Linked DNA regions of Homo sapiens. The protein of the gene in region 4 interacts with the protein of the main gene of each other region in a pairwise test. Each region holds a gene or a part of one and is shown on either strand. Other genes may lie near its edges.

Evidence for each region.
Region 1: the proteins of TRIML2 (region 4) and CCNH interact in binary tests that used the Homo sapiens proteins (3 or more experiments, as listed by UniProt).
Region 2: the proteins of TRIML2 (region 4) and XAF1 interact in binary tests that used the Homo sapiens proteins (3 or more experiments, as listed by UniProt).
Region 3: the proteins of TRIML2 (region 4) and KRT27 interact in binary tests that used the Homo sapiens proteins (3 or more experiments, as listed by UniProt).
Region 5: the proteins of TRIML2 (region 4) and CTBP2 interact in binary tests that used the Homo sapiens proteins (3 or more experiments, as listed by UniProt).
Region 6: the proteins of TRIML2 (region 4) and NFKBID interact in binary tests that used the Homo sapiens proteins (3 or more experiments, as listed by UniProt).
Region 7: the proteins of TRIML2 (region 4) and POU6F2 interact in binary tests that used the Homo sapiens proteins (3 or more experiments, as listed by UniProt).

Annotation. Positions count from the first base shown.
Region 1 is NC_000005.10:87,402,647-87,406,901, reverse strand, and holds part of CCNH (cyclin-H), read left to right. Parts: intron 1-1,894; coding exon 1,895-2,058; intron 2,059-4,255. UniProt on the Homo sapiens protein: Regulates CDK7, the catalytic subunit of the CDK-activating kinase (CAK) enzymatic complex. CAK activates the cyclin-associated kinases CDK1, CDK2, CDK4 and CDK6 by threonine phosphorylation.
Region 2 is NC_000017.11:6,768,957-6,773,211, reverse strand, and holds part of XAF1 (XIAP-associated factor 1), read right to left. Parts: intron 2,570-4,255; coding exon 2,228-2,569; coding exon of another isoform or gene 2,171-2,227; exon of another isoform or gene 863-2,170; intron 100-862; coding exon 43-99; 3' UTR 1-42. UniProt on the Homo sapiens protein: Seems to function as a negative regulator of members of the IAP (inhibitor of apoptosis protein) family. Inhibits anti-caspase activity of BIRC4. Induces cleavage and inactivation of BIRC4 independent of caspase activation.
Region 3 is NC_000017.11:40,775,553-40,779,550, forward strand, and holds the end of KRT27 (keratin, type I cytoskeletal 27), read right to left. Parts: coding exon 3,950-3,998; intron 2,181-3,949; coding exon 1,963-2,180; intron 1,751-1,962; coding exon 1,701-1,750; intron 1,587-1,700; coding exon 1,447-1,586; 3' UTR 1,256-1,446; downstream 1-1,255.
Region 4 is NC_000004.12:188,092,327-188,096,581, reverse strand, and holds part of TRIML2 (probable E3 ubiquitin-protein ligase TRIML2), read left to right. Parts: intron 1-3,559; coding exon of another isoform or gene 3,560-3,600; exon of another isoform or gene 3,601-3,792; intron 3,793-4,255.
Region 5 is NC_000010.11:124,996,153-125,000,407, reverse strand, and holds part of CTBP2 (C-terminal-binding protein 2), read left to right. Parts: exon of another isoform or gene 1-556; intron 557-2,237; coding exon 2,238-2,444; intron 2,445-4,255. UniProt on the Homo sapiens protein: Corepressor targeting diverse transcription regulators. Functions in brown adipose tissue (BAT) differentiation. Isoform 2 probably acts as a scaffold for specialized synapses.
Region 6 is NC_000019.10:35,890,529-35,894,783, forward strand, and holds part of NFKBID (NF-kappa-B inhibitor delta), read right to left. Parts: intron 2,640-4,255; coding exon of another isoform or gene 2,532-2,639; exon of another isoform or gene 2,175-2,531; intron 1-2,174. UniProt on the Homo sapiens protein: Regulates the expression of IL-2, IL-6, and other cytokines through regulation on NF-kappa-B activity. Functions in the regulation of inflammatory responses.
Region 7 is NC_000007.14:39,466,505-39,469,856, reverse strand, and holds the end of POU6F2 (POU domain, class 6, transcription factor 2), read right to left. Parts: 3' UTR 1,256-3,352; downstream 1-1,255. UniProt on the Homo sapiens protein: Probable transcription factor likely to be involved in early steps in the differentiation of amacrine and ganglion cells. Recognizes and binds to the DNA sequence 5'-ATGCAAAT-3'. Isoform 1 does not bind DNA.

The DNA.
Region 1 (4,255 bases), on a different chromosome or scaffold from region 4:
AAGATCATGTTGGCAACCTTATGGATCAGGTATTTATCGCGCATCTGTATGTGTCAGGCATAACGTGGAGAATGGATTAGAATAGATTAAGTCAATAACAGGGTACCGTTAAAGGAGTCCAAGCAAAAGATAGTGCTGGGCTTCACTCGTATGAAGGTTGTGGATACAGAAAGAGCTTCCTGGGCTTCAGAGATACAGGATGAGTATCCCTTATCTAAAAAATTTGGGACTAAAAGTACTTGGGATTACACTTTTTTTTTTTTTGATTTTGCAATATTTGCATTGTGCTTACTGGTTGAGCATCCCAAATCCAAAATCTGAAATGCTCCAATGAGAATTTCCTGAGTGTCATGTCAGTGCTCAGAAACTTTCAGATTTTGGAGCATTTCGGATTTTGAATTTTTTGGATTTGTGATGCTTAGCCTGTAGTTAGGTAGAATCAATAGAACATGAGGATTGATTGCATATAGAGATGAAGACAGAGGAAGAACCCCCAGGTTTCTGACTGGGTGAGAGTTTTTTTGTTGTTGTGTTTTGTTTTATGGAAGAGACTGATGCACATTTAAATACTGAGGCAAAGAGCTAGTAGTGAGAGCAAGATGAAATACAAAATAGTCTCTTTGGAGTAAGATGGAAGGGGGTTGGCATGGGATTTGGAAGCAAGGTATAAGAACTGGCCTTAGAGGGAATAATAGCTCTTTCTCTTAACAGTGGAAAAGGGGAAATCATGGGTTAGGATACTGTTATGCCTCAGGATTTGGTGTTGACAGGAAATAGCGCCTTTCTTTGGTAAGAGATAGTTTTCTGAGAGTGATGGAGTTTCTGAGAATTATCAAAGACATTAAGACAGATGGAAAATATTTATGCAGTCACTGAAAAATAGGAGAGTCAATTGTCTGTGGAAATACTATGGTTGCTTGGCAGTGTTTAAGAGCCTTGCTGAGGTCAATGAACATGAGTTTATAGTAACATTACCAGACTTCTGCTTGTATGGTTTTCTCTGGCAGCCCTCAGAAATCTTGGTATAGTTGCAAAGCGAAAGTTTGTTGGATTCAACCACTGTTCAGTTTCTGGTTTTGCCAGAAATTTGTTGGCAGCATATTGGGGCAGGGAATTCAGGAGAGAAATGAGGACCAGAGGACACTGGTGAGTGGGAGCAAGTAGAGGGATAAGTGAGCAAAGGTTCAGAGGAGGGAGAACAGCTGTGAAGTAAATGAGTAAATATATTAGAAAGGGAGGCATTGTGGTCAGAGTAGTGGGTCTGAATTTGTCATATCACAGGTGAGGCATTTTTGCATAATTGACTCTGAATATTTTGTTTCAGAGTGTAGAAAAGCTTTCTTAGTGCTTTAGGTGTTGCATATGGATATCTGAGGACTTAGGATTTATAGTTTATTTTATAGGGTATGAAGAACTGTCAGGAAATAGGAGGTCTTCCACATCTCTTGGGCATACTCTAAAACTTTTTCTGTGGGAATTCGAAGTCTAGTGTGTTCTAATCAAATCGAGATTCATTTTTATTTACTTCTTCCTGAAAGCAAATTTTAAATAGAAGGAATTTCATATAAAAATAAGGTGTATTCCTACATGTGGCCTTACATTTGAATCACCTGGGTTGCCTGAGAGAAGCATTTACCTGGGAATATGTATTTCTTGGCCCTACTTTAGACTCAATGGAATCTCTAAGAGCTTCCCTTCCCTCCCCTTCCTACTCAGGTGGAAAAGGACCAAGAGAAGGGATTAATGTAAATTGAGGACAGTGTCAATTACTGTGCTAGGAACTTTAGATATGTTATAGCATATATTTCTTAATAGGAGTTGTGTAATTTTTAAACTGTTGTTATACTCCATTTAAACCCTCAGAAATGGTAACATTTGCAAACTTTCTTTGTAGACCCGCTATCCCATATTGGAGAATCCAGAGATTTTGAGGAAAACAGCTGATGACTTTCTTAATAGAATTGCATTGACGGATGCTTACCTTTTATACACACCTTCCCAAATTGCCCTGACTGCCATTTTATCTAGTGCCTCCAGGGCTGGAATTACTATGGAAAGGTATTAATTAGTTTTTTAACTTAGGTCAAATTCAGTCACTGGGTTTATTTATTCATAGAATCATTTCTGACTGTAATCTTTAATATTCTTTGTGGCTGGGATGGTTGGTGAGAAGAAGAAATGAAATTGCCTTTTGAGGAAATCTTTAAACATCATGAAAAATACTGTTAAACTAAGAGGATACATTTAGGATTAAAGTAGAAGTAAACCAGGTGATCCTTGAAAGACTGATATAGCTATCAGTATATGACAAATTTAGAAGTTCCTGTGAACTGGTGAGCAACTTGAGTGCAGCAAATGTCTGCCTTGTTTTATCTTTATTCCCCTTCTGTAGAGCATGTATGACACGCGGAAGTTAAATATTGTTAACTAACTGAAGCACAAGCTAGCAGCCAATTAGACATTTTTAGTTTCTATATTAAGTTTCTCAATTTATGACCTTTGAGGTTCTGCTTGATTTCATTCCTAGAAATAGCTGAGGAAGAAAGATGATAAAACTTCCTAAAGTTAATTAAAACTATTTTACATGATTATAATCCCTTATCCATAATTTCAGAATCCATTGATAAGGTGGCAGCAAATAGAGCAGATTGTATTTAGTTTTTATTTCACTTAATAGGAATATTTGTGTTCCCTTGCAGAAATCTTAATATTCCTGATTACAGACATCACTTGGGTATTTCACATTTCATAATATATACACCAGATAACTTTTCTAAGACATGAATACTTATTAATAAGAATTTCGCAACACATCTGCATCTAGGATAAGGGATTGTAGGTTTATATTTTATTTATGATATGCCTGTTCTCTGCAAACGCAGCTCACCAACTGTATATAAATGTATACGTTTAATCCCAAAGTGATTTATATCTCCACTTATTTACTAAGCAAACATTTATTAGATACCTTCTATGTACTACTATGCACTGTACTACACTTTAGGAGTATGAATAAGATAAATCTCTGTGTTAGGAAAGATAGTCATGTAAATTACTGATGTATATGGAGTTAAGATGTGGACTTCCATTAATTTTGTGGGGGTTGGGTGGTTATTTTTTTTGAGACAGCATCTCACTCTCACCCAGGCTGGAATGCAGTGGCACAGTCAAAGCTCATTGCAGCCTCAACCTCCCAGCCTCAAGCGATCCTCCTACTTCAGCTTGCTGAGTAGCTGGAACCACAGGCACACACCGCCACACCTTGGCTAATCTTTTTGTTTTTTTTGTAGAGTTGGGGTTTCCCTATGCTGCCTAGGCTCATCTCAGTCACTCCTAGACTCGAGTAGTCTCCTGCCTAGGCCTCCCAAAGTGCTGGGGTGACAGGTGCACACCACCATACCTGGCCTGCAGACTTCATTCTGTAAGGGAACAAAAGTCCTCTTTTCCACAATTCAAATAACCAAAAGTTTGATTAATCTTGAAGCATTGTATATAGTGCATCTATAAATTCTTCAGTGAAGGTCCAAATGAATTTATTTCATCTTAGAAGTTTAGTTCATTATAATTCCAGGAAGGCAAAATTGAAATTGCCATACCTTTGGCTCCTTGCAAATTTAATAGGCTTTCGTAACATTCCCAGAGACTAGACATTGGGCCTTTTTTTTTTTTTTTTCCTTTAGGGAAATGCTTTCCAAACGTTTTTAACTTACAGCTGATTTACAGGCAAATTTTTGGGATATGTGGAAATGAGCTTTACATTTATTGCTGATTTCAAAAGGGAAAGCCCCTGTGCTGTTGTCATAGTCTGGATAATGCCTCAGATTATTAATCATAGGATTATTACCGTTATTTCTGGATTTTCTTCTCTTTCTTGCAGATTTAGAGCTTTATTTTTCATCTGCTACTTTAGGTATTCTTATTGCCTGTGGATTTTATTAAAACACCACAATATTATAAGTTCAAATTCAAAATTGAGGTTAAGAGTTGCTAACTTCACAGAGATAATGAGTCTAGTCAGCCAACTCTTAGCACCAAACCTATGACCCTTATGCTTAAGAAATCAAAAGGAAATGAAGAGTAAAAATAAAGGAAGATGACAAAAATGGGAGGAATTTTAGGTAGGAGAGGGAAAGGAAAAAACTAGTTATTTTGAATTACTGGTAGCCAGAAATGGATTAGTTGTCAGGAGATTTCCTGATTTTCAGATCCAAAATTTATTCCCACAGTAGATGATGATGATGTAATATCAAACAGT
Region 2 (4,255 bases), on a different chromosome or scaffold from region 4:
AGTGAAATCTTTTGAATTTGTAGTACCTTTCCTTTTCCAAATCTAGCTGAAATTTCTCACTTGTTTTCCTTTTGATGAAGCTAACCACCGGCATTTCTCCTAAGAAATGGATATAAAAAAAGTTTGATATGGTTAAAGTAAGAAGTGCTAGCTCCTAGAATATCTCTGGATATTGCTGTCCCTTGTTACAGAGCATGAGCCCTGCCCAAAGACTGGAGTGTAATGGCATAGAAAAGGTCAGGAGCCCACTGAGCCAGAAGTATAGGAGGCTTGCGACAAAGTTTAACAGGGGCCTGTTGCTATCACTGGGTGGAGGGACAGATGGGAGAACACTCACACCATGGAATCTTAGGCAGCCATTAATAAAAATAAGCCACACTGTTTTGTTTGTAGGGATTTCCTTGGGTATTGCTGAATTTACATTAGGATGTAAAGAAATGTTGCTGGGCGTGGTGGCTCATGCCCTATAATTCCAGCACTTTGGGAGTCTGAAGCGGGTGGATCACCTGAGGTCAGGATTTCAAGACCAGCATGGACAACATGGTGAAACCCCATCTGTACTAAAATGCAAAAATTAGCTGGGTGTGGTGGCGGGTGCCTGTACTCCCAGCTACTCAGGAGGCTGAGGCAGGAGAATCGCTTGAACCCGGGAGGCAGAGATCGCAGTGAGCCGAGATCCCACCACTGCATTCCAGCCTGGGTGACAGAGCGAGACTCTGTCTCAAAAAAAAAAAAAAAAAAAAAAAGATGGCAGCTTTACTGGTTCAAAAAAAAAAAAGTGAAAAAATGTATATAACAGGACTCCAAATGTGTATGTTTGTATGGTGGTTATATAAGAAATTGCTAAATAAAATACAGGGTGTCCTGGTTAAATTTTAATTTTAGCAAAACAATCATTGCATGGAATATACCTACACTAAAAACAATTCTTTGTTTCTCTGAAATTCAAATTTGACTGAATGTCCTGTATTTTTATTTGCTAAATCTGGCGACTCTGTTATATAAGGATGGAGAAAACTGTGAAAGGAAATATACCAAATTGTGGGAGGCAAGGAAAAATGGCACTAGTAACACCCCCAGCAAATATGAAATGAACCCATTTTTGTAAAATTATATGCTTATGTGCATACATAGATGCACAAGGAAGTTAGAAAAAAAGGTTTTGGCATACTAAGTCTTTTGTAAGAAGCATGCATCATATACTAAGTGAAAAAGGCATGTGGCAGAGTAAAAAGTATAGTAAGATAATATGTGTGGAAAAAGAAACAAGTAAAACCCAGTATATGCTTGTTTAGGCTTGTATATGCAAAGGTAGAGCTTTGAAAAGATGCCCATAAGACTGTCCAAAGTGGTATCTCAGGGTATGGGGTTGGGGAATTAGGGTTAGCTTTGCTTTTATACTTCTTTATATGATATTATATCAACTAGCTCCAACAAAATCTAGTACTTATGTATTTTGAAAAAAAATAAATTTTTTAAGTAAGGCATTTAATCTGGAGCTTAAGAGCATAAACTTTGGAGCTATATACATGTGGACTCAGGCTGGATCCTGCCACCTTCTAATTGTATACTCCTTGGAAAGCTACTTCACCTTATCTGTAAAATGGAGATAAAATGCATGCCTATTGTTTATGATGAAGATTATAAAGAGCTCTGTATTGTAACTGGCACACAATGGTTAACAACCTCTAATGCCAGTTATTATTATTACTAGAAAATAACCTAGGACATAAAAATCATGATATTCAGGGAGATGCCTACAAACCCTGATCTTCTTGAAGCAAACCTTGATCTGCTGGAGGTAAGCCACCACCAACTGGCTTAGGATCTTGACCAAGACATCTCATCTCTGGGCCTCAGTGCCATATCTACACCATGAGAGAGATAGACTGGGTATCCTCTGATTCATTCATTTACTCAACAGTTTTGAAGCAGTTGCTCCAAATCAATCCCTGGCCTAGAAGCTGGAGACACAGAGAAGAGGGACCTGGCTCTACCTTCAAAGACCTGGCTTGAGTCAAAGGTGACTCAGTCTCTCGGAGGTGATGCAAATAAACCAGGTGGTAAGTGCTACGAGATAGTGCATTTGGGCACCCAGAGAAGTGGGAGTCAGAGAAAACGGCCTTTTCAGCCACAACATTTGTGAACATCTTTCAGGTCTTGGATTTTTTTAAGACACTGTGCGGATGGTTCCCAGAAAGGTAAGCAGAGAACAGAGGCTGAGTACCTGATGTTGATTTAGGATCGGCAGGGGAAGCAGGATGCCACACTGAGAACATCTCCTCAGAATGTCATAGGCTGCTTTATCTCCTCTAGGGGAGCTGGTCCTGGGCTTGGGCTCTGACATCAAAAGTGGATCCAAGGTTTTGTTTTTGCTTCTTGGTGCTTTCTTTGATGAACTTTCAGAATGAAGAGGAAATCTGTTTATACTTCTTGTCTTTGGACGAACATCTTTCTCCATCGTGGAAGTTTGATTTTCAGCAGCTTGACTTGGAAGAGATGAAGGAAGAATTTCTGGATTTCCAACAGGAAAGTGTTTCTTAAACTCTGAGTCTGGACAACATTTACCCTGCAATTGTGAATAATATATCAAATTTTAAAATGACTTCAGCTTTAATGGTCAGAAAATACAGTAGACTAGATAACACAAGAAATTCCCACTGTAAACACTTTTATATGGTGTATAAAATGTGACAGACATTCAATTTAATAGCTGGCTTTGCAGGAAAGAAAGAAAATTTTGCATTCCAGGAATGAAGGTCTGACTGGTTGCTATGGTTTGAATGTGTCTCCTCCAAAATTCAGGTGCTGCCAATGTGATGGTATTAAGAGGTGGGGCCTTCGGGGGTGATTAGATCATGAAAGGTCCTCCCTTTTTAATGAGATTAGGGTCCTTATAAAAGAGGATTCATGAAGTATTTGGCTACAGCCTTCTACTCTTTTGCTTTCTACCATGCTAGGAGGCAGCAAGAAGGCCCTCACCAGACACCAAATGGTGGTGCCTTGATCTTGAACTTCCCAGTCTTCAGAACTGTTCGAAATAAATTTGTGTTCTTTATTATTACTCTGTCTGTGGCATCCTGTTATAGCAGCACAAATGGACTGGTTAAGCACAGGAGTTGACACTGCTTATGGGAGATGTAGGGTCAACTTTGTAACTAGGGGCTTGGATGACAGGAAAGTCCCATCCACACAGGTGGGGATTTGGAAGTAAGACTCTATTGATCCTGCATAAAGCTGGAAACTTTAAAGGATAAATTATGGTGGGTAAGAGGAAAAGTATCAGCTAATGAGAAAAGGAAAGTGGCAAGGAAGCTTTTCTTTCTTGGGTCGGTATTTGAGTGTGGAGATGAAAACTTATGCCCCTGAAAACTCAAAATCACAGGTCCATGCCATTCCTGTGTGTGGGATTAGGATTTACTTTGGCCTCATGGTCTGGGAATCCCTGAGCAGAAGAATTAACATAAACATTGAGATGTCTGGCAGAAGCAATCACAAAATTCCTCTGGAGGGACAACAGCCTCAAAATAGGTCATAGAGGATCCTCATAGGTAGAGTCCCACCAGATAGAAACTCACAATCCAAAATTACAAACACACAAGGAAGCAATCCACCTTGAGTAAGAGTCACAGACACAAAAGTAGTCAGATTAGCCTCCAAGAAGTTCAGGTAATGCAACTATAGGATAGAGACTGTAAAATAAATTAATTAAAAATGATTAAATCTGGGAAAAGAATAACATCTCATGAAAAACAGAACAGGTAAATTTGAAATTTTCTAATTTGTAATTAACAAATAATAACTTTATATATTTATGGGGTACAATGTGATATTTTAATATATATATACATTGTGGGATGATTAAATCAAGTTAATTAACATATCAATCACTTCACATACCTATCTTTTTTTTGTAGTGAGAACAAAAATAGGCAAATTTGAAAGAAAGATAAATTGAACTTCTAGACATGAAAAATGCAGGTATTGAACCTAAATGGATGGGCTAAAAACAGAAAATTAGATTTGGCCAAGAAAGAATGAATGAACTTGGAGATAATTTCAGGAAATTACCCAGAATATAAGAGATAGAAATAGAGAAAATATGAAAGGTTAAGAGACATAAGGCGATTAAAAGAGAGAAATGAAAAAAAAGGAGAGTCATGAAAAAAAAGAGAGTCATGAAGCTAGAATGAGAATGCTTAATATACATGTGTTATGTTCCAGAAGGAGAGTTGAGAGAATGTGGGAGAGTTGG
Region 3 (3,998 bases), on a different chromosome or scaffold from region 4:
TCTGCCTGTGCATCCCTCACCTCCAATTTCTGGCAGCCAATTATCTTTTTACTATCTCCATAGTTTCGCCTTGTACAGAATGTCATATAGTTGGGGTCATACAGTATGTAGCCTTTTCAGATTGGCTTCTTTCACTTAGTAATATACATTTAAGGTTCCTCTGTGTCTTTTCATGGCTTGATAGCTCATAGCTTTTTAGCACTAAATAATATTTTGTTGTCTAGAGGTACCACAGTTATTTATCCATTCGTCAACCAAGAGGACATCTTGGTTGCTTCCAAGTTTTGGCAATTACGAATAAAGCTGTTATAAACATCTGTGCACAGGTTTTTGCGTGAATGTAACTTTTCAACTCTTACGTGGTAGGATGTTTCCTTTTCCTAATTTTGATATGAGGGTATATGATGTGAGGACTGGTTAATTAAAAAGTTAAGTGAGAGGGTATCTGCCTTACATTCGCTTAGGTATTATTACATGCGTGTGGGAAAAAGAGGAGGAAAGACAGCTTGAAAGTGACTGTGTTTCAACTGTGCTGAGCCAATTCTACAGAGTTCAGTAATAGGACACTGGTTCCAGAGAAAAACAGGCTGTTTCTGTTACGGGATTGGTGAGGGGGAGCCAAATCTCTCACCCACAAATAAACCTCTGGAGGGTTTTCTGCTGAGTTTAACCTCCTCCCACTCCCAGCCTTGAAATAGATTCATTAATGGTAGGTGCTGAAATTATTGCACTAAAAGTTACCTTTGACTTGAGAGCCACATGGCTCTGCAGTCTTGGATGGCAAAAACGAAGGAGAGAACTTGTGAATTCCTACCGTTATGGTGGAGTGATCAAGATTATGAATTAGATGCCTGCTGGAATTCTCCTCTTACCCTTGTCCTCACAGCTCTCTTTTTCCCCTTCTACCTTCAAATATCACTACTTATAGCCTTTCCTTTATGTTTAAGTTTGTTTCTGATTCTTCAGGTTCTTATTTCTACATCTATGAGCATATTGACTTCAGGGACTGGATCTTATTAACTGTTTTATCCTCGTTATCTGGCACATAGCGTGTTCTCAGTAAGTACTTTTCGTACTGAGACAAAGGAGACAAAATTTTACAGAGAAGTCAAAAAGACTCCAACTAGTTTTCACATTAAACTTACTTCCAACTTGTGAAGACTGTTGAATTAAACAGAAGAAATTAAAGACAAAATTCAGCTTCCATTTGGGAGGGTATATCTAAAATGCAAAGATTGGCCAGAACCAGGGAAGATGACTTGCAACAGGAAGAACTTTTATTGAAACACCACCATAGAGAAAAAGCCAAAGAAATGGTACTATTCTAAAAATAACTTGTCTTAATTCATTGGAAGAAAAGCAGAAAAATAAGGGGACCCTTATTTAGGAAACTAGCTTCATTTTGGTATTTTAATTTGGGGGCCATTCTGTCTCAGAGGCTGGAGTTCAGGAAGACACCCTCTGTTCATTCTTGTTGTTGACTTTGGTGGATTTCTCTTCCACAGTGTGAACTCTGGATGAGAGAACTTTGCCACGAGGATCTATCTCTTCAACAACTGTTTTGACAATGGTGGTTTTAGATGAATCTAAAATGCCACATATAAACTGTTTAGAATTTATCAAATTCATAAATAGGAAATAAAACATCATTTGAAACACATACAAATAAACACTGAATGCCTAACACAGCTTTTGTTTACCTTTTGTTTGATTTCCTGGGCCTCCATAGCCTTTTGATTTAGAACAGGAGCTGTAAAAGTATAGAGCGCTTATATTAATTATTCTGTTTTACTGAGGAAACTGAAAAATAATGATTTAAGGTGGGAATTCACTGCATTCTGAAATAACACTAAAAGAGTATTATCTATGCGTGATCTAGATCATAGATATTTTGTACTTGATTTCAAATCATCTTTAGTAACCTTAAAAATGAATTGTTTTCTCAATGGCGGCAATACTGACCCATCTTCTCCATCTATCAGGAGGCAGTAGGTCTCAATTTCTTTTTCCAGGTGGACCTTGATGTCAAGGAGCTGCTCATACTCGAGCTTCTGGCCCTCGGTCTCGGTTCTGACCTGGTGCAGCTGCTCCTCCAGGGCCCCGATCTGAGCCTGGATCTGTGCCAGCTGTGCACAGTAGTTACTCTCGGTCTCTGTCAAGGAGCACTCCAGGGAGTGTTTCTGTAGTTTGGTAAGACATGGTTTAATAGAAAAGGTCACGGTGTTTTAGAATAAGCCAAAGCATTTAAGAGATAATTAAGAGAATTATCCTTACATCATGCAAATAATTATATTTACCCAAAAGATTCCACTTCTTCAATATTAATTGTTGCCTTTATTAAATGTCCTACTACTTTTCTATTTGAGAATGACACAGCTGGTGCTGAATGTCCCTCAGATGCCCAGGTGTGCTAAAAAAGATGAAATTGTCTCTTCATAGGGCACAGACTGAAAGATCCCTCCCCTGCACCAATATAGCCTGTGCTTGTAGAGTGTGGCACAATTTGCTACTTTACCCACAACTAGAAGTCCGCCTATACTTTGCTACTCATTTCTAGCCATGTGACAGTCTTGTCTTATGAGGATTGTAGCTCTTCTATTAAAAAGTCATCCTGCAGTAAACCGCATAAACGTTCCATGAGTAGAATAAACCACAGAAAATAATTACCTTCTTAGACTTTAAATACAGTAGTTCAATTCATTGGCTTGTGAATCTGAATGGGTTTACAGATATACTCAGAGGGAACACTCACTGCAATTTTACATGGAATGAAGATGAGAGTGTCTTATCCTTTCACCTGCAAGTATTTTTTATATAAAGTCTTGATTTTATATACATTCATAGCCTCATCTGTGGATAAACTCTGGTGGTTTACTAGCCATAGTGGGAAAAGTATAGACTTGGGAGTTAGAAAATTTGGAGAGAACTTCTGGATTCCTTCATACCCAACTGTGGGACTGTGGGAATTGCTTAACTTCTTCGAATCTCAGAGTCCTCTTTTGGAAATAATGACATGAGTTATAACGTCTGCCCTGCCCATGCCCCGGGGTTGTTGTGGACTCACATGTGGGCGGAAGTGCTGGGCAAACCCTTAATGAAAGCAGTTATGATTATCATTACACATGTTTAGTTTTATAGTCAGCCTTCATGCCTCGACTTTTCCTCTGTCTATGCCACTTACAAAGGAACTTGTAAGTGCTCTTAATTGAGTGGCCAAAAGGAATGCTAGATGAAGCTAGGAGTGGTGCAAATGTATTTTTGCTCTCTTTAAGCAGTAGGATTTTTTTTCTTTTTTTTTAAATGGACACATAAGAATTGTATATATTTATGGGGTTCCATAATTATATTTCAAAACACACAATGTGTAGTGATAGAATCAGGGCAGTTAGCATATCCATGGTCCCAAACATTTATCTTTTTTGTGTGTGTTGGGAACATTCAAAATCCTCTCCTTGAACTATTAGAAATTATAGAATAAATTATTCTTAACTGTAGTCATTCTACAGTACTATAGAACACTTGAACTGATTCTCCCTATTTCTCTGTAATTTTGTATCCTTTAACCAACCTCTTCCTATCCCCCCATCCCCTTCCCAGGCTCTAGTAAGCACTTATCCCACTCTCTACTTCTGAGATCAACTTTTTTAGCCTCCACATATGAGTGGTTTTTGATATTTTGACTTATGATAGAAGATTCAAAGTCAAAACGATTTTCTTTTTCCAGTATCTTGACTGTATTTGCTAATTTCTAATATTTCATAATTATTGGCATCCAGCTATACTTTGTAGGCAAAGAGGATTGTCATGTGCAAAATGCAAATATGTCTTATGTCAAGCACTGTAATTAATGGTTAAAAACTAAAATATGTAATTATGTTGGAAGAAAATTCTCTTCGATTATTTTTTTCTCAATTTCTAAAGCAAATCTGTTTTGTAACTTTTCGCTTACCGTTGCTAAGAGGGACTGAAGTTCAATCTCAAGGGTTTGAAGAGTGCGT
Region 4 (4,255 bases):
GAAAGCTCTTCCCATGCAAAATCTTTTTTTTTTTTTTTTTTTTTTTTTTTTTTGAGACAGAGTTTCACTTTGCCCAGGCTGGAGTGCAGTGGTGCGATCTTGGCTCACTGCAACCTCCCCCTCCTGGGTTCAAGTGATTCTCCTGCCTCGGCCTCCCAAGTAGCTGGGATTACAGGCATGCACCACCACACCTGGCTAATTTTTTGTATAGTAGAGATGAGGTCTTACCATGTTGGTCAGGATGGTCTTGAACTCCTGATCTCAGGTGATCCACGCGCCTTGGGCTCCCAAAGTGCTGGGATTATAGGCGTGAGCCACCACGCCTGGCTAATTTTTTGTATTTATGGTAGAGACGAGGTCTTACCATGTTGGTCAGGCTGGTCTTGAACTCCTGATCTCAGGTGATCCACGCGCCTCAGGCTCCCAAAGTGCTGGGATTACAGGCGTGAGCCACCACGCCTGGCTGCAGATTCTTTACCAGTTCCCCAGCCATGAAACATGATTGCAGGCAGATTCCACTGCTTAAAAATTTAAAACTTCTGGGGAAGAAATTCAGCATGTATAACAAAGGGTTTATATCTCCTGTCCTTATAGCTTTGCCTTTCCCAGAATGTCCTATCGATGGAATCCTACAGTGTGTGGCCTTTCGAGGCTGACAGCATACTGCAGTTGACATATAGAACGTCCAGGCTGCTTCGTGTATCAGTAGTTTGTTCCTTTTTATTGTTGATAATATTCCATTGTATAAATATACCATAATTTACTTATCCTTTTGCAATTCTACGGACATGGGTTGTTTCCAGCTCTGTGCTGTAAATATTAGCAGCAGATTTTTGTGTGGGCACAGCTTCATAGTTCTTGATTGACTGTCTAAGGGTGGGATTGCCAAACTTGTTTTCCAAATTGCCTGTGCCATTTTGCCTTCCCACCAATAACGTGCGAAAGATTCAGTTACTCTGTATTCTCACCAGGGTTTGGTATTGTCAGTTTGTTTTACTACATCCGACCCGATAGATGGGTAGTGGTATGTCATTTTAATTTGCATTTCCAGAATGACTAATGATGCTGAGCATATTTTCATGTGTTTGTTTTCCCTCTATCTCAACTTTGGTGAAATACATGTACAAACCCCTTTTCTAAATTGGGTTGTATGTCTCTTGAGTTTTATAATTTCTTTATATGTTCTGTTTAGCATTCATTTATCAGATAAATTTTGCAAATATTTCCTCCCAGCATGGTTTGTATTCTCATTTTCCTAATACTGTCTTTTGAAGTGTAGAGGTTTTGCATTTTGATGAAGTTCAATTTATCAAGTTTTTTCTTTTATGACTTCTGCTTTTTGTGTCTTATTTAAGAAATTTTGCCAAAGCCAACAAAGATTTCCTTCCAAAAGTTTTATGGTTTTCGGTTTTACATTGTGGCCTATGAACCACTGAGAGTTAATATCTGTATACAGTTCACAGAATGGTGCAAACCCTCTCCTCCCCCCACCTTCTATTTTTATTTTTTGACTCACATGTATCCATTTGTTCCAGTTTCATTTGTTAAAAACACTACCTTTGTCCATTCAATTTACTTGGCCCCTTTGTTGAAAATCAACTGGTATATGCGATCACGTCTATTTGTGACTCTAATAGGTCTATTGATGGTTGACTCTTTCCCTTTGCCAATAGCACACTGGCTTGATTGATAACTCTGTAGGAAGTCTTGAAAGCAGGTACTGTGCATTCTCCAAATTTATTCTTTTTCAGAATAGTTTTGGCTACTGTAGGTTGTTTGCTTTTCCACATAAATTTTGAAATCAGCTTGTTGGCTTCTTCAAAATGGACCGCTGGGATTTTTATTCATATTACATTGAATCCGTTGATCAGTTTGGGGAGAATTGACATCTTGACAATATTTGGTGCTTTCAGTCCAGGAATACAAAATATCTCCATTTATTTAGGTCTTCGATTTCTCTCATCAGTGTTTTGTCACTTTCAGCATAAAATGTTATATGTATTTGGAGATGTATCCCTAAGTATTTTATGTTTTTTACAGCCACTGTAAACGGTATTTTAAAATATCAATTTCTAATTGACATTTCATTCATTTCTAGTTCATTGCAAGTATATAGAAATGGAATTGTTTTATATATATTGACATTTGTACCCTATAACTATGCAAAACTCACTCATTAGACAGTGGATTTCTATAAATAGATCCTTCAGGATTTTCTACAAAGTCATGCAGTATATGAGTATAGATAGCTTTATTTCTGCCTTTCCAGTCTGTAAGCCTTTTCTGAATTTTTCTTGCCTTATTATACTGGCTCAGACCTGCAGTGTGTTGAACAGAAGTGGTGAGAGTGGACACTTGCTTATTCTCGATCTTAGGAAGAAAGAAAACATTAAGTCTTTTCACTCTAAATTCTGATACAGCTATAGCGCTTTTTGTTGTTGTTTTGTGTTTTTTGTTTTTGTTTTTGTTTTTGTTTTTGTTTTTGTTTTTTGAGATGCTGTCTGGCTCTGTCACCCAGGCTGGAGTGCAATGGCGAAGCCTCAGCTCACCGCAACCTCCTCCTCCCAGATTCAAACGATTCTCCTGCCTCAACCTCCCGAGTAGCTGAGTGCCACCACACTCAGCTAATTTTTGTATTTTTAGTAGATACGGGGTTTCACTCTGTTGGTCAGGCTGGTCTCGAACTCCCAACCTCGTGATCTGCCTGCCTCAGGTTCCCAAAGTGCTGGGATTAAAGGCGTGAGCCACCGCACCTGGCCCTAGCTATAGTTTTTTTTAATGGCTGCCTTTCATCAAATTGAGGATGTCCCCCTTTATTTCTGGTTTACTAAGAATTTTTATGAATCAATGTTGAATTTATCAAGTTCTTTTTCTCTTGAGATACTCCTGTTGTTTCTTCAACCTTTTTTGTTTTTGTTTTTGAGATGAGCCTCGCTCTGTTGCTCAGGCTGGAGGGCAGTGGCATGATCTCGGCTCACTGCAACCTCTGCCTCCCAGATGCAAGCGATGCTCCTGCCTCACCCTCCTGAGTAGCTGGGATTACAGGCCGCCACCAGGCCTGGCTGATTTTTGTAATTTTAGTAGAGATGGGGTTTCGCCAGGCTGGTCTCAAAGTCCTGGCCTCAAGTGATCCGTCCTCCTCGGCCTCCTAAAATGCTGGGATTACAAGCGTGAGCCACCGTGCCCAGCCACAGCTGTGCGTTTTTCCAGAGATAATTTGCATTTGTTTCTGCCAGTCTCCTGGAAATACTGAGAGTCTCAGACAATTTTTTAAAAATTCAAGACGTGTAGCTGTTGAGACCACCCTAATAATGTGAATTGGGCTTCAAATTCAGAGATTTAAGTTCATTAAATTTACTTCAGTCAAATAATAGAAATTAAGCTGGATTCCACATTACAGAAAGTAGGAAATAAAGGCCTTCCAGGTTTATGGCTTAGACAACTGAAGCAATGAGGGAGCTGTGAACTGAGAAGTAGAGACTGCAGAGGGCTGGCGTTGAAGTTCCATTTTGGGTGTGTTATGTTTGAAATTCCTGTGTTTTTTCCAACTGGTATTTAGCTGTTTATGGAGCGAGTCACAAACACAGAGAAGATGTTTAAAACTGAAGCTATGCACAGTTACCTGGGGGCAGTGAAGGAGAATATACTACTTGAAAGAAGAAGTCCCAGGACCAAGCCCTGAAAGATCACAATAGTTAGAGGCTGGGCAGAAAGAGATGAGAGGAACAGTCAGAGATAGGAAGAAGACGTATTCATGCAGGTGTGAGGAATTCATTGAGCCTGCGTGTTCTCAGCGTGAGTTTCTGGAGGGTCCACACAGGTGTTCCATCCTCCGCTGATAAATTATCTGATGTAATGCCTGATGTCCAGGGCCTGTTGTCAGCAATTTCCAGGCCTCTATGTCACCCTGTGGGGATATTTAAGATGTGTAGAGTACGGCATCGGGAGGGCCACGAATGAGTTGCTGCTGGCCGACTCCTGTGGCCGCTCCAGGCTTGGAGATCTAGAAGACCAGGGTTGGGCCCCAAGTGATATCTGGATGGAACTTGGCACCAGGACAGTTTGACCGTCTCTGGGGTGAAGCTGTTTTTTGTTTGTTTGTTTGTTTGTTTGTTTGTTTTGAGATGGAGTCTTGCTCTGTCGCCCAGGCTGGAGTGCAGTGGTGTGATCTCGGCTCACTGCAATCTCCGCCTCCTGGGTTCAAGCAATTTTCTGCCTCAGCCTCATGAGTAGCTGGGATTACAGGCGCCTGCCA
Region 5 (4,255 bases), on a different chromosome or scaffold from region 4:
TCCGTGGATGCTGGGAGGCCCAGCCTGCGAGTATCAGAGCCACCCATCGTGTGGCACTTGAAGGATCAGCTTGACTCATCCAGAAGGGAGGCTGCATCCACAGAGCGATAGAGGACAGCTAAGAAGATGCTCCCTCCGAGAGAGCGGTGAGGGTTATGGAGGTTCCTGGCAGTGGCGCCGCCGCGGTCTGGGTGGGAAGGTTCTGCCATCCCAGGCAGTGGCTGCAGCTCTTCCTCCTGCACCATCTCCCCGTCCTGGGACTCTGCACTCCGGTGAGCAGTGGAACCACGGAGCTGAATGTCCAAGTTCGGTGAGAAGACTGACCAGATGTCCTGCCTCAACCTGCCTTTTTGTGCCACCCACCCACCCGGGTGCCTTTACACACGTGGCCTTGTGGGGTCTCCCAGCCAGCATCAGCTCATCTCCTAGGAGGAGGTGCTGCTGTTGACGCCAGGCAGCACTGCCGAGCCAGCCCCGGCAGCAGCACGGAGCCAGCGTCCTTGAGGGTGATTCTGCTGCGGGGCCTCCCTGCTGGGCTTTAGCCTGCCCGAGGAATGAAAATTGTCCCAGCCGCCAAAGATTTTCTTGAACCTCTGGCATCAGCCTCAGTCTGTCTGACTTAATAATAACATGGCATGTGATCAAGCCCCAGCTTCTCTGCTGAGCTATTTCAAATGAATGAGGCCAGTTTCCTGCAAGATTCCTGGCATCCAGCTCGTGGGAAAGTTGGTCGGCCTCAGTCACCGTCAACCACACTGGTCCCTTGGCAGGGGTCGGTGGCCCAGAGGAGCCCTCAGTGGCCACGTTGGGTGGGTGGGTGACCTGCTCACAGTGGCTTCACCTTCTCTGAGCTGTGTGTCTTGCTAAGCGGGTCACTCTCAAGGCCCTAGACCTAGGGGTGGCCCTTGTGGGGAGACAGCCACGCAGCCATCTAGAAAGTGGGTTTGTGGCACCCACTGGTCTTGTTTCCTGTCCAGTAGAGCCGAAGAAGCTGCCTTGGTGATTGCCGTCCCCACCCCAATCTGTCCCCACCCCAATCTTCAGGACTTAAGATAGAGGAATCCTGGGCTGCCTTAAAGGTGGCCCTGTCCCAGTGCCTTGGGCACCCCTTGCTGGGAGAGACACTCTCCTAAGGGTCCCAAAGCTGGGATTAGGAGGGAACCATTTCACTTGGGCTGACGTGATGCCCAGATAGCCACACCCCTCCTCAGAGAGCTCAACTGGGAGCCACAGGCTGGCTGCTGAGCCCACCCTCTGGGGCCCCGCCCCTGGCTCGGCCCCTCTGGTCTCTGCTGCAAGCAGGCCTCTGGATCTCCACCTGTCGGGTGTAGGGAGGGGCCGTTCCCAGCCTGGCCCTCTGCCTACTTGCACCCCTGTTGTATCTGGCAGTCATTCATTCTTCCCCAGACACCCTCTGGCTGAGGAGGGTAAATGGCAGGGCCCTTTCTGCCTATGACTTGGGTTAACTCTCCATGCCACAGCTGCTTTGTGCTGGGAGATACTTGACCCTGGTCTCTGCAGCTCGTGTGGGGCCAGAGGGCTCACCCCAAGCCACCCTCGGCCCTGACCTGAAGGCTGCTCCACGGGGCAGGGAGGGCATCCTGTCTGCTCTGAGTTCTTCCCAGCAGAGCAGGGTGCTGAGCACATGACCACAGGGCGATTGTGCACACGCTTCGGCCATCGGTTCCGTTCCCGGGGCCAGCCCTTGCATCCGTGTGGGGGTGGAGGTGTTTTTTTAAAACCAGTATGTTTAAAACGTATGTTTTTTGCATCAAACTGTTAGCATAGCTTAAAACCAAAAGCCATTCTTTGTCACCCTGCCAGCTCCATGAGGGAGACCCTGAGGGGTTTGAGGCTGAGTGGGGTCCACTTGGAGGAGTCTGGTCTGAGGCCCACTGGCTTCCTGCCACTCCGGGTCCTTTCTTGGGACTCAGTGCAAGCCCAGGAGGAAGCCAGTCAGGCCCAAAATCAGCCATAGGAGTTGGGTTGGTCATGAGCCACGTCCTGGAGCAAAAGTCCTCCTTGGGAGGGAGGGGTAGATGTTGGGGCTAGAGCTTCCCATGCATCAGAGCCAGAGGGCCTACCGCCCACGTGCCCAGCCCCGCGTCTGCTAGACGATAAGGTGGGCCTCCCCCGGTGCCAACAACCGAGTCTCAGGAGGGCGGGCTGGGAGCCCTGGGGCTTCCCCACTGATCTTGAGGTTTTCTCATCTCCGGCCTTGGCCTCATCCCTTTCAGGAATTGCCGTGTGCAACATCCCGTCTGCAGCCGTGGAAGAGACAGCGGACTCTACCATCTGCCACATCCTCAACCTGTACCGGAGGAACACGTGGCTGTACCAGGCACTGCGGGAAGGCACGCGGGTTCAGAGCGTGGAGCAGATCCGCGAGGTGGCCTCGGGAGCGGCCCGCATCCGTGGGGAGACGCTGGGCCTCATTGGCTTTGGTACGTGCCACCCTCTGCGCTGACCCCCAACCCCTCCGACACTGGGGCTGGTGTAGTGGGGACCCCTCGGGAAAGGCAACCCCAGCCTGCTCTTGAGGAGCCAGGGCAGGCAGGGCCAGCACCCTCCCCGTGTTGCACGGGGTAGGAGATCGGAGTCAAGACCCATCAGGCAACTCACCCTAGAGGCAGGATCTGGGCTGGTTCTGGAAGAATGCGTGTCCACTGCTGTCTGTAGTGTCTGGCAGGACAGCATTCTTTGCTGTGGGGCAGCGGGCAAGGCGCTGTGCCCAGTAAATTTCCCTGGGCAGGGGTGAAGGGCAGGGGCTGTATGGAGGTGTGTCGTAAAGCAGCAGCCAGGCTTGGGGCTCGTGTAGGGGCTGGCGTAGGGTTCAGTGGAGACGCGGGTTATGGACATGGCCTCACTCCTGAAGGCCTTCAAATGCCAGGTTGGGGTGGCACAGTCAGGCCATCAGCTTGGAAAGCTCTCCTGAGAGAGGGGCAGGAAAAGGAGACGTGAGGAGAGGCCCAGGAGGGTCTTCAGCAGGGTGGTAGGGGCCGGTGCCACGGAGAAGGTGATGGTAAGCAGCCTGATTCCATGGGGGCTCGAGGAGGTCCCCACCCTGCTCACCATCAGGGTCCACACCACACCCAGGAGACCTCGGCCCATTGCCACTGAATCTCAACCCCACCGCTTACCAGCTCTGTGGCCTTGTGGGAATTACCTGAGCTTTTTGCCTCAATTTCCCAATCTGTAAGTAGATATTTGGTGGGATACGTGGTATCTGCCTTTTGGGACTCCAAGAAGGCGCATGTGCACACGGGGCCAGTAATGTTCTGGCCTCCGGGAGACTCCCAGCTGCTGCTCAGCCCTTGCTTGGAGCTCCGCGCCTCCGAGGACGAAGCCCCCGTGCTCCTCTCCCCACAAGCCCCGCTCTGGACCTGGGGTGCCACTTGAACAAGAGAGAAGTTGCTGGACGCTTCCAGGAGTGCACACCTTTCTGTCCCCGCTACAGGCTGTGATCTCCTGGGTCTGGCCTCGCCCGACGCCTGGAGTCTGAGTTGAAGTGTCGGGTGCTGGGGATCTTCTGAAAGGACCCACCGTGTTTTGACTTTGTTGGAAAACAGATGTGGTGTGTGAACACCAGGCTCCCTCTGTCCGGGCCCCACTGGGCCTCATGGCTCGGAGATGCAGCTTCATCTCCATCTCTGAAGCCCCTCCTGGGGCCTCGGTGGTCTCTGGCCAGGCTGCAGAGCCTGGGGGTGGTCATGAGCACCCTGGGTACACGGTGGGGCCTCACTGGGGAGGTGCTTGTTTCAGGGGCTTCTGACTCCAGCCGTCACGGGACTTCTTCCTGGGGTCGTTCCTGTAGCTGTGCCCTTGTCATTCAACTTTAAAAACCCTCTCGGTGTATAGAGGTCAGTGCAGCCCCCTGCCGCCGCCCTGTTTTCTCGAGACTGTACACTAACCCCTGCCGCCACCACCCTGGATCCTCAGCACAGGGACTGTCGTGCTCTCCTTGTTCCCTTTCCAGGTGTCTCTGTAGCCTTCAGGACTGTCGCTGCTGCAGCCATCCTGGGCTAAGAGCTTTTGCTGGCCTCGGGTTCTACTGAGCAAGAGTCCCCCAGGCCCAGCGGGCTCAGTGCAGCAGGCGGGGTGGGACGGTGCCGCCAAGAGAGGGCAGCCTGGGGCTGGGGGCATGGACAGAAACTGAAGGAAAGGCAGCCTGTGGGAGCTGCGCTTTTAAAATAAGCGGCATGGGGGGCCGGGGGGGGCGCTGTGACGGGGGAGCAGGTCTCTTCTGTAGGGACTG
Region 6 (4,255 bases), on a different chromosome or scaffold from region 4:
ACACCTAGGTGCCCTCCCACAGAATCCAGGAGTCTTTAAAGACCCTGACCCTTGGCGGAGTGCGGTGGTTCACGCCTGTAATCCTAGCACTTTGGGAAGCTGAAGAAGGAGGATCACTTGAGGCCAGGAGCTGCAGACCAGCCTGGACAACACAGCAAGACCTCATCTCTACAAAAAATAGAAAAATTAGCCAGGCGTGGTGGTGCGCACCTGTAGTCCCAGCTGCTTGGGAGGCTGAGGCAGGAGGTTCATTTGAGCCTAGGAGTTCACGGCTGCAGTGGGCCATGACCACACCACTGCACTCCAGCATGGGTGACAGAGTGACACTCTATCTCAAAATTAATAAATAAATAAATAAGATGCTGGCCCTCTTCTGCGAGCCCCACCAAGAGTGCCTTATTCAGTTGTATGTCTTGTGCACCGCACAACACCACGTCTCAGGGTGTACCATTCACACCATACACCTTCCAGAACTGTACATTTCTCATGACAATTTTCCCACCAGTGTCTGAGAAAGAGACTCCTTTTCCAGTTCTTCAAAGCAACTGCCTTGGCTACCTGCCCTCCATTCAACACATTAAATTGCATCCCGACCCACACAGACTGTACTTTATCTACAAGCACAGGAGTTGGCAGCATTAATCAGTGGACTAGCTAATATTGCAATACTGCACCACAATATTGAGCTGTTCCCATCATATTTGGGGGAAAATAAAAGACATTTTCTAAAATGAAACCTTTTTATGTGTCTTTAAGGAGTTTGTAACGATAATGAATGTTAAACATTTTATGTGCTGATAACAGGGCAAAACCACCTAGTTTGCTCGTCCAAAAAATGATGAAGACAAAACCAAAGCTCTAGATTAAGAGTGATTTGAAAAGACGTAACATCATAATATGTGTGCTTATTTGGATCTTGATTTTTTTTAATGAAAAAAATTATCATTTTACAGCCAAAAGGAAATTTGAATACAGCCAGGATATTTGGTATTACAAGAAAATCTTTAATTTTTTAAAGACAGAGCAATGATACTGAGGTTTAAAAAGTTCTTTTTTTTCGAAGGGCACAGGGGCTCATGCCTGTAATCCCAGCACTTTGGGAGGCCAAGGAGGGCGGATCACTTGAGGTCAAGAGTTCGAGACCAGCCTGGCCAACATGGTGAAACCGTCTCTACTAAAAATACAAAAATTAGCCAGGCGTGGTGGCACATGCCTATAATCCCAGCTACTTGGGAGGCTGAGACACAGGAATAGCTTGAACCCGGGAGGCAGAGGTTGCAGTGAGCCAAAATCACACCATTGCAATCCAGCCTGGGCAACAGAGTGAGACTCCGTCTCAAAAAAAAAAAGCTATGTTTTTTGTTTGTTTTTTGAGACAGGGTCTCGCTCTGTTGCCCAGGCTGGAGTGCAGTGGTGTGACCAAGGCTCACTGTAGCCTCAACCTACTGGGCTCGAGTGATCCTCCCACCTTAGCCTCCCCAAGCACTGGGATTACAGGGAAAGAGTTCTTATCTTTTATTATTGTTGTTGTTGTTGTTGAGAGACAGGGTCTTGCTCTGTCACCCAGGCTGGAGTGTGGTGGCAAAATCATGGCTCACTGCAGCCTTGACCTCCCCAGGTTCAGGTGATCCTCCCACCTCAGCCTCCTGAGTACCTGGGACCACAGGCATGTGCCATCAAGCCCAGCTAATTTTTGTATTTTTTTTAGAGATGGGGTCTCCCTATGTTGCCCAGGTTGGTCTCGAATTCCTGAGCTCGAGCAGTCCGCCCACCTGAGCCTCCCAAAGTGCTTGGATTACAGGCATGAGCCACCGCACCCAGCCATCTTTCTTATTTTTAAAAAACTTATTATTATTACTAAAAATACAAAAATTAGTGGGGTGTGATAGCACATGCCTATAGTCCCAGCTACTCGGGAGGCTGAGGCAGGAGAATCACTTGAACCTGGGAGGTTGCAGTGAACCAAGACTGTGCCACTGCACTCCAACCTGGGCGACAGAGCGAGACTCCATCTCAAAAAAAAAAAAAAAATTATTTGTCCTTTTTTCAGAGAAATACTCCCTGATTTCTGAGTTCTCCCAGAACCCTACCACACAGTTAATTCTTCCTCTTCATCATTTCTTGCTCAACTTAAATGTAATTTCCTCAGAATGACCTTCATTGTGAGCCCCGCATCCAATATAAAGCCAATCTTTTTATTGTCTAAGAGCTCCTTCTACATTCCCAAGGCAGCTCTCATCCCAATTTGTAATTATGTTCAGTTCTTTGTTTACTTATCATCTCCTCTCTTTTCCATTAAATTTTAATGTCTAAAAGTACAAGAAAGTGGTCTTTTCTTATTAAAACATTATAGGTAGCTGGGCACAGCAGCTCACGCCTGTAATCCCAGCACTTGGGAGGCCAAGGCTGGGGGATCACTTGGGCCCAGGAGTTCGAGACCAGCCTGGGCAACATAGTGAGACCCCCCCTCTCTACAAAAAATATAAAACAATTAGCCGGGTGAGGTGGCTCATGCCTGTAGTCCCAGCTACTTAGGAGGCTGAGGTGGAAGGAATGTTTGAGGTCAGGAAGTCGAGGCTGCAGTGATTCGTGATCGCACCACAGCACTCCAGCCTGGGTGACAAAGCCAGACTCTGTCTCTAAAAAACAAACAAACAAAAAGCAACTTTATGCCCCATCACTAGCACACTGGTAGCTACATCATATGTGTCCAAAATTCTGAGTGAAGAAACGAATGAATTACCAAAGTATCAATTTCACCTTCTCTGTATTGCCCAAATGATCACTTAGCTCTACTTTGCAACCATTAAGAGCCTAGATTACCATCATTCATTTCCTAACCCCGCTAATAATGCCTTATCTTGTCTCTACTCAGTCATGCCCGTCCTTCTTACAGTCCATCCCCACCATCTAGCTAATTCTGCTAAACACCATTATTCTTTAAAGATACACAAATATTTTTGAAAAAAATACATGTTGGAATTTGCTTAAAAATCACATGAAAGTGAGAGGCCACGCACAGTGGCTCACGCCTGTAATCCCAGCACTTTGGGAGGCCGAGGCGGGTGGATCACGAGGTCAGGAGATCGAGACCATCCTGGCTAACACGGTGAAACTGCGTCTCTACTAAAAATGCAAAAATTTAGCCGGGCGTGGTGGCGGGTGCCTATAGTCCCAGCTACTCAGGAGGCTGAGGCAGGAGAATGGTGTGAACCCGGGAGGCGGAGCTTACAGTGAGCCGAGATCGCACCACTGCACTCCAGCCTGGGTGACAGAGCGAGAGCCATCTCAAAAAAAAAAAAAAAATCACTTGAAAGTGAGAGAGTGGATGGGGCAGGACTGGCCATGAGTGGCTGGTTATTGATGTTGGACATATGGAGTTCATTCCACTATTTTCTATATTTTATTGGTGTTCAACATTCTTTAACTAAAAAAACATTTTTCGGCTGGGCGCAGTGGCTTATGCCTGTAATCCCAGCACTTTGGGAGGCCAAGGCGGGCGGCTCACCTGAGGTCAGGAGTTTGAGAGAACAGCCTGGCCAACATAGGGAAACCCCGTCTCCATTAAAAATACAAAAAAATTAGCCAAGCGTGGTGGTGCATGCCTGTAGTCCCAGTTACTCAGGAGGCTGAGGCAGGAGCATGGCTTGAACCCGGGAGGCAGAGGTTGCAGTAAGCCGAGATCATGCCACTGCACTCCAGCCTGGGTGACAGAGTGAGATTCCATCTCAATAAATAAATAAACATTTTTTGTGGATGTTTAATTCTCTCAGCCAGCCTATGAAGGAGCTACTGTCACAGGAAAGGAACAGAACATAATTAAAAGCTAGGTTCTAAAGTCAGACTACCTGGGTTCTAATTCTCTCTCTGACAGTCACAAGCTATAAGATTTTTCAGGCTGGGTGCAGTGGCTCACAACTGTAATCCCAGCACTTTCAGAGGCAGAGGTGGAAGGATTGCTTGAGCTCAGGAGTTTGAGACCAACCTGGCCAACATAGTTAGACCCCACCTTACAAAAAAGTTGCCACGCATGGTGGTGCATGCCTGTGATCACAGCTACTTGGGAGGCTGAGGTGGGAGGATCACTTAAGTGCACAAGGTCAAGGCTGCAATAAGCTGTGATCATGCCACTGCACTCCAGCCTGAGTGACAGAGTGAGACCCTGTCTCAAAGAGATTTTTGAGGCCAGGTGCAGTGGCTCACGCTTGCAATCCCAGCATTTTGGGAAGCCGAGGCAGGAAGATCACCTGAGGTC
Region 7 (3,352 bases), on a different chromosome or scaffold from region 4:
ATTAAATGCTTAGCAGATATTTGTGGAATATGGAATGATTAAATGTAAATGATGTCTGTCCTTTTTAAAGAAGACATTTTAGAGTTTCCTAGGTCAAACATATTTCATAATAGGCATAATCATAGGCAGGACCTTTGCCAATAATATTTGTAGAATATTAAATATGGAAAGAAAGCCATTGAAAATGACTTTATTTTTTGTTTTTTCCCCACCCTTCAAGGCAGAAGTATCAGCATTTTTTTTTCTTTTGCCCCTTTTAAAGTCAGGCTTGGAGCTCCCTGGCCCCTTCATGGCTCATTTATAATGCATGGTCATTTGGATTTTTGGTTTTGTTGCTCACTCCAAAGCACTTCTTATCAATCACAGTATGAAGTTGATACACAGATTTCCATGTAGCATAAAAAATGTTTGCTAAAGGTCACTGAAAGTATGGCGATTATGACTCTAAATTTTTTTTACTGGTATTTTAGCAAGATGATCCTATTTTCTGAATTAGTGAATTATATAACAACATTCACTCTCCCCTCCTACCCACACTAAACTTCAAGCAGGAACATATGCCAAATGTCCAATTTTCCAGAACATGCCATTACAGACATTACTTAGACTAGCAGATCACTCTTCACCAACAGAACTCTCTACGACACCTGGCACACAGCTGGGTGTTAGTCGTAGAATGTGGTGGCTCTGGGTTTTGTCTGCTCATTACCATGGCTCTATTTTTTTGTCTTCCGGTTCTTATGTGTACTCCTCTTTCAATCCTTGTGGTCCCACAGGGTCGTCAGAGTGAGGCCCCACCCTCCCCCCACAGACAGGAATGAGCCTGTGACCATGAATTTATGTGCATCACCCCGCAGCACCAGTGCTTAGTTTAGAGAAGGGCGCAATGATTCAAAGCCTTAGAGTCAATGGTTAGAGAATCCATCTGAGAAGGAAGCCAAGCAGGACAGGCTGATGACATCTTTGAAACCACTGAATCCAGCTGTGCTTCAGGTCCACAACGGAACTTCCCATTAAGTCAAACAACACAGTACCTTTATGTGTAGGCAAGTTTCAGTTGAATTCCTATAACTTGCAACCAAAAGAGTCCCAATGAATACAATATGTCATTTGAAAAGTTAAAATAATCATGATATTAACCAATCTGTCTTGAACCCCTTCCTTTCCTTAACATTTGGGGTTTTAATGTACAGTTTTTAAAATGCTGACAACTTAAATGACATATCTGAGTGTGAGACACACTTAGCCTAGAAGCTCATGTCAAACAATTATTTATTTTTTATGGTACAAATTAAAAGTGACAGATCTGAAGCTGTTAAGAAATACACAAAGTGCAGCTTTACTGACCATACAGATATTGCTCTAGATTAAGTACAGTTTTTTTTTTTTTTAAATATTAAGCAACCTGTGCAGATAAAATCAGCTTTGGTTTCAATGTCAGAGCAAGTAAGGAGCTTTTAAATATTCAGTTTGGCTTCTTGGTCACAAGTCTATCATGTCAACTTCTTGTCATGATGATTTTTCCAAAGCAACCCAGTCCTGTTTCCTGCCCTCCCTCCTGCTGCCTGCTCCGGGCACGGAGAAGCAGATCTCTTTGTGGTGCCTCATAAGTGACCCCGGTGACCAGTCTAGATCACAGCACATAGGACAAAAAAAAAAAAAAATCACTTTCTTAACAACAAATAAACAAATGTGCCTCACATAATTTCAAGTTGAAGACAAGCAAATCACATGACAAAAAGCTCATTACAAAATGTTATCCAAACAGATTTTACAGTCAAACATTGAAATGAAAATCAATTTCCTTTATCTCAATTTTTTTTTAAGCTTGGTCATTAACTGGGTACAAGTAGAGTGCTGAGGTAAAACATTGATGAACAGTTTGTATTTCTTTTTTTTTTCTTAAAATAGGAACAGTTTAGTATTGCGAGATTGTCAGCAACATTTAGCCATATCTATACAATGTGCATATACCTACAAATATTGAGCTTTGGTCCAGCGTAGAGAAACGAGCAAAGGCATTTTACGATTTCTTTTTGGTTATAGCTTGAGTTCTTTGATACACCTCTACTTGTTTTGTTTTGTTTTTTTCCTAGCTCCTTTTGCTTTTTTGTTCTCTCTTTTGTGTTGTATGTGTATGTGTGTGTGCATCTGTGTGATGACAACATAAAGAAGCCAAAACCTTGCAAATGCAATTAAAAGTTTCAATTGTTCAAAATATTTTCTTGGTTGAAAAAGAAAGAAAATCTATAAACAAGTGTAAAATGTAATATCCACTGTCATTTTTTCATGAAGTAATGAAAATGCAGATAACAATAATTAAAAATTATGTGAGAAAAATACTGAAGCTTGAAATACAATCACATATGCCCAAAGTGGCTTTTATTTTTTGTGGGTGGCAACCTTAACCTTCAGTTCATGGAAACATAAAAGACACTTAAACGCCATTGGCATATGAAGTTGTTTACAAGTAGACATGAGAAATGTCATCATAAAATTAAGCATTAGGTGTGGTCCCAAAGACTTATGAGTTACACAGTATAATTTATATTCCTAAGAATCGGTTCAGGCACCTTTTTATGCCTTGTAGCAAAAAATTTATCTGTAAAAAATTAATATAAGAAGCATTACAACACCTTATAAATAATTTATAAAACAATACAAAATTATAAAACTATAAAAAAATCACTGCACATGAATGGTGTTACGACTGTCGGATGAATATATTTCTTTTTTGTTCCACTCTGGAAGATTACTTTTATTTTATATTTTCCCTGTCCTAGTTAGACCCTCCCAATTATAGATCTCAGAACTGAGCAGGCCTTATGTAACCGCTGCCGGCATATATTTAAATATTTAGCATCCATCATATGTTATCTTGTTAACTTCTCTTCGCAGGGAGCTTTTCTTGATGGAATTTGGAGCAGGTCCTAGGAGAATCCAAAATCTGTTTTAATCAATAAAGTTTTGGGTTTCTGGGTTGTCCATGTTTGTGCAGTTTTTGAGGTGGCGAAAGGGGCTCTGTGATGTTGGCATTGAAGATCAAGTTAGCTGTGGTCCAGTTAGCATTGACTGGTAAAATGGAAACACCTTTACGAGTGACTTGTTCCACTTCCAGGATTCCTTTTAGAGTTTCCTTGCTGGTAGTCTCTTGATTGCTGCATGAATCATTGGAGGGGACAATTATACTGTAGCATTTACACAAACAGCAAAGGAGCCAACAGAAGAAACTCAAACTCCCCAGGGAGAGGGAGTGTATTAGGGGAAGGAGATGGCATTTCTAATCAGTTGGGCAACTTGAGATTGGGTTTCTCTTTTTTCTTTCACAACTTACTTCTAGATAATACATTAG